Regions from separate parts of the Homo sapiens genome. Here region 2 is linked to region 1. Evidence: fine-mapped expression QTL. Tissue or cell type: whole blood. Region 1 holds a variant in brackets; the other region holds the start of a gene. All regions are shown on one strand. Distances are between the middles of the regions.

Region 1 (2,847 bases):
AAATTTTATTTGAGATGGAATCTGACTCTGTCACCCAGGCTGGAGTGCAGTGGCATGATCTCTGCTCACTGCAGCCTCCACCTCCCAGGCTCAAGTGATTCTCCTGCCTCAGCCTCCTGAGTAGCTGGGATTGTAGGTGCCTACCACCACACCTGGCTAATTTTTATATTTTTAGTAGAGACAAGGCTTCATTATGTTGGCTAGGCTGGTCTCAAACTCCTGACCTCAGGTGATCTGCCCACCTTGGCCTCTCAAATTGCTGGGATTACAGGCGCAATTATTCCATGTTTTTATTCTTTTCTTTTCTTTTTTTTTTTTTTTTAGACAGAGTCTCGCACTGTCACCCAGGCTGGAATGCAGTGGCGCGGTCTCGGCTCACTGCAAGCTCTGCCTCCCGGGTTCACACCATTCTCCTGCCTCAGCCTCCTGAGCAGCCAGGACTACAGGCACTGGCCACCACGCCCGGCTAATTTTTTTGTATTTTTAGTAGAGACAGGGTTTCACTGTATTAGCCAGAATGGTCTCGATCTCCTGAACTTGTGATCCCCCCGCCTCGGCCTCTGAAAGTACTGGGATTACAGGCATGAGCCACTGTGCCCGGCCTCATGTTTTTATTCTTAAAATTTTTATTTGATTTTTCTGTGTGTCTTCTATTTTACTTCTATTTTTCTACCTTTTCTTTTGATTCAAGCATTTATGTAATTGCTCACTGGGGCCTTTTCATGGGATGTGCTTTAAAAATCTCTTTTTAGAGAGCCCTGGGTGGTGGGGTGAGCATGGAAGTCTGCCTCCCTGCCCCCTCCTTAGCTGAAGGTGGTGGGGATGGAGCCACATTTTTTTCCTGTGGTGTTTTCCTAGAGTTGGGTGGTTACTGTCTAAAAGTTTTCTGGCTTGTTAGGCTGATCCTTTAGTGGGGCTTTTTTTTTTTTCCTCTATTTCCATTACCATTTCCAGGTTGATTCTTCTTCAGCTCCAACTATAGAATACATGAGATGACAAAACCACCCAAGTCCCAGGGGCCTTAGCCAGCCTGCTTTTCTCTACCTTTCATATTCATCTTATGTTTGTTTTAAATATAACTTCCAGCATTGTTATCTACACTTAATAGGAGAAGCAGAGAAAGGTGTTTACTCCATTTTGTCTGGAAGTGGAAGTCCATTGTTTTTATTTTTTAAAGTATTTTATTTTACTTAGCAATCAGCAGTACATAGTAGTTTGACAAAGCAGAAAGTGCATGCATTTCCCTTTCAGTGTTAACTGTGAACACCTGGCTGTCTCTCTTCATGAATATTTATGGAGATAAGTGTTGGGCATTGTAGTAAGGCGAAAAGAGAGATGAAAAGATGAATGGATGAAGAGACAGAAAGAAAACTGGCATTGTTTAGTAATAAATAGGTTTAATAACAAAAAAATTAATGTTACTCAAATTTAAAAAGAAAAAGTAACTAGAGAACTAAAGAAATTGCTGTTCTTCAAGAGAACTATATTGAACAAGAGGAAATCCTTGTTTTGTAATATTTCTCTATGAGTGAAAGAAA[G/A]AAGGTAAGACAGTTATGAGAGACTCAGTATGTTTGTGTCCACATGATTAGACATTCAACCTTGCTTACATTTCTTCTCCCTCTCTTTTGTCCTCTATGGACTGTTTTTTAAATTGTTGTAAAATTATTTTTACTTTGTCAAGATTTACTTATTTAAATTTTTGTTCCGGACCCATATTTATTCCTGTAACTGTTTTTCTCAATTTAACATTTAAATTCTCATTATACCATGTGTTCTACATTGATCAATTAAATGGTTCCAACCACCCTCTTACAAGGACAAAAAAGAAAAAAATATGTCTGGTCTTAACAACAATGTAGTAAGCCAAGAAAGAAAAATAAAATGTATAAAGATTGGGGTAAAAAAACAGCCCTCATTACCATTCATTCTGTAGTAATTTTATTCCCTAGTTCTTCATTGTGATCCTCCCTTTTTTCTTGGGTAGGGGGGTGGATTTAAGTATCAAGTAGTTAAAATGTTCTCCTCTCAACCTGTATCTTGAATAATGAGAAGAAAAATGTTCTTCTCTTTGTCTTTGCACGTTTGAGAATCCCTACTAAATTTATTAGCTCCATAATACATTTTTGTTCTCAGAGTAATTCATAGCTTTTCATCTCTCTTTTTAAAAAAATCATGTTGGGTGGTGTGTATTTCATTAAATTCATGTCCTTATTGAATTACTCTATAGCACAAGCATTTTTAGAAGATTTCTTGTATTCCTTGGATCTTAGTTTTCCCAGAATGTGTTCTTCCTTGGATGTTTTTCATACCATGTTCTTTCTCTCCTGTATTGGTGTTATTTCTGTGCATAATGATAATGACAGGATCCTTTTTAAAAAATATTATTGATCCTAACGTGGCTGGTTTTAGCCAGACCTCTAATTGGCTGTGATTAGTACAGATGGGTTCTTGTAGACACTCCTCCAAAAATATTTGTGACATCTGTCTTCTAAGCTGCATCTAATGCATTTGATGTTGCATTCTCTGTTCCTTTTTAATAGCAGAGGCCTTGGGGTAGGGGATGGGAGAACCTGTCTAAGAAAACCTTTAGCTCTTTGTTGTAGGCCTGAAGACTGTTCTTTCCCCTCTCAACTTTGAATAAATACTCCTGGGGTCTCATTCTCCCAACTCTACATATTGCCTCAAAAATTGGCAAGCCCCTGGCAGCCCCTCCCAGTGTCTGCAGAAGAGTAGTGTATAAGGGCTTCTGCTCTTGATGGTGTATTTCCTTGATTTTTCCTCTCAAGCTGCCTACTCTACCTGCATCTCCCCATCTTTTAACAGTGCCTATTAAATGATGGCCCATCA
Region 2 (2,500 bases), 120 kb after region 1:
ACAACAGTTCTCCGCAAATCTGCCTTTAAAGGTGAGTATGACACACTGAATATACTTGAGATATCAAAAATGTGCGGGGGCATGTTCCCCTTTGGCTCAAATGAAGACACTGATTTTCAGATCTAGCAGTAATGTGCAGCACCCCAGTGTCCTCTAGGACACACCTAACACGGGACCGGATCCCTTGGGACACAGTGGTGTGCTCCACAACATACATTTAATGGGCTGGTGCAAACCTGTAAAGTCTCTTAAAGGTCTAACGCGTTAGGATTCTCTTTAAGAATCCAGTAAATTTTGTCCCCAGTTCTGCCTGTCATTAAGCAGGAGGTATTGTCTTCTGCTGCCTAACTTTGCTATGGATCTTTTAATCCAATGTTTCCAGCAGCAACATAATCACGAGAAACTGTAGCACACTTTTCAGGGTCTAGTCTAGGACAAGCACAGCATACATGTTCTGAGAGGAATGACATAGATGGAAGCAAGACATGTTACATCCTTGTCACTTGGAAACAATTTTAGAATTTCTGCCTGTTTGGCCACGGCTGCATTCCTTTACATCACCCAGCTGAGAAGTCTGGGTCTTCAGCCTGCGCGAATGACAGTGCGTGGCAGAGCTAAAACTAGGCTAAAACATGAGTGCTGCTGTTACTCTACATGCCACAGCGCACTCACATCACCCCGAATCGGACTTAAGAAATTACACGTTAAGAGGAGACAGAGCAGGGGCCAGAAAAAAAAAGATGAAAACGGCCCGGGCCAGGCTCGCTGGGGACAGCCGGGACCCGCGGCGGCCTCGGACCGGCACCCTCACCGCGGGCGGAAACCCGTCTCTGAGCACTCAGGGAATCTGGACAAACCTGTCTCGAGGTGATGCAAGGCGGGGGCCCTGTCCTGGCCTCGCAGCTAGCTCGATGCTGGCCCGGGAGCCGCGGGCCCCTCCAGTGGGGGGGCTCTGGGGCCCGGCGACGCCCCCTTAACCAGAGCTCGGGGTCGGGACCCGGCCGGGGAGGGCGGGCACGGGCCGGGGCGAGCCAGCTGGGCCCCCCTCTCCCTCGGGCCGGGCCAGCCCAGCTCCAGCCGCAGTCCCCAGCAGCAGTCCCGGGCTGCGAGGCGGCCAGCGCAGCAGGTGCCTGCAAACGCGCACAGGTGCCCGGCCCCGCCTCCGTGTCCCACTGCGGCCGCCGTCGCCGAGTCGCGAGCGCCTAGAAAGATGGACAAATGCCGGGCCCGTGGAGGCTGGCGGCCAGATTTACAGACACCTCAGCCCTCGCGTACCCACCAGCCTGCCGGGCAGTAAGCCTCACCCCAGTGCCTTCAATGCAGAGCTCCTGGCTGCCAAGCGCCGCCGCGGCCCGACAGCATCTCCCGCCGCAGCGCCAGCCCTGCCCCTGCTTGATCCCCGCCCCGCCCCACCCCGCCCTGCCCTGCCCTGCCCTGCCCTCGGCAGCGGGCTCCGCCCCCTGCTGCACGATCCTGGGGCCCGAGGCTTCCGCCTGGCCTCCCGGCGCCAACTGGCTCTCACACCTGCCCGTCAAAGACGTTCTTCCGGGGGCGTTGGGAAGAACACACTCGGTCCTGCAAATCAAATCACCCCGGTTTGGGTGGGACTGCACTTGACCCTCCCCTTACGTAACAGCGCCTGGGACGGCCTGTCAGTCATGGAAGTATCGGCCCCCCGGGGAGGGATGGGGCAGAGACAAACAAGCGCCGGGTCACAATTGGCCAGGGCGTCTGCCAGTCACCACGGAGACCTTCCCGGAGGTTTATTCGCACAGCCCACAGCGCAACCGCCATGCGCAGGGGCTGGGGCATACGCTAACGTCTGCAAGCCAAGCTTTTGGGGAGGGCCGGGCCGCGCGACTGCCCAGTGGCTCCCATCGCTAGGTCCTACTGCGTTGGGCGGCGCTGCGAGGCCCGAGGCCGCCACGTCGGGCCCACAGGGTACCAGGGGTCAGAAGGACACTTGGCGTGGCATCAAGAAACGCCCGTTCTCTCCATCAGTGCAGGAGCTGAAGGCTGGAGCTGAAGGGAGCTCAGCTCCAAGTGGGCCCTGGGCACTAGAGCAGCCAGAGGAGCTTTGTAAATCTGTGTGTGTCGGCCCCGACCTGCAGCATCCGAGTGGGGGCCGGGGGCTGGGGGGAGGGGGGAGGCTGAGGACCAGGAATCCACATCTGTCACAGTTCGCTGCTGATTCTGGCGCACACTGAAGTTGGAGAACCTCTCCCATAGCAACATAGTTCCTGGTCTTTTTTTTTTTTTTTTTTTTTAATTCACACGCTCTCATTTGGACCTCCCGTCTGCTTTCCCATGGAGGTCTCTCTCTGGCCTAATTCTGTGACTGCTGCCAGCTGCTTTCCAGGCCTGTTCTTACCAACGGTGCCTCCCCGTGGTTAGTCCGTCCAATCTCGGCACTCCACTTCCACACTTGCGCGACAGCCCTCTCCCCGCAAGCCCCTGCCCCTTTTCTAGACACCAGAGGCACTGACCTGTCTGTGACACC

The links. PIP is the estimated chance that this variant, and not a neighbour inherited with it, causes the effect.
Region 2: it holds the start of AKTIP, and the variant in region 1 is fine-mapped to the expression of AKTIP in whole blood (TOPMed, PIP above 0.99).

Annotation. Positions count from the first base shown.
Region 1 is chr16:53,385,789-53,388,635 of GRCh38, forward strand. No RefSeq gene overlaps it. Among named protein-coding and RNA genes, the nearest start is that of RBL2, 47 kb to the right of the region's middle. The variant G/A (reference allele first, on the strand shown) is at 1,539.
Region 2 is chr16:53,501,843-53,504,342 of GRCh38, forward strand. It overlaps AKTIP (AKT interacting protein), which reads right to left and starts at 1,367. Exons shown (of 10, transcript NM_022476.4): 1 at 1,305-1,367. RefSeq lists enhancers at 563-1,064, 1,065-1,564, 2,025-2,124 and silencers at 835-1,134, 1,395-1,464, 1,485-1,724, 2,445-2,500.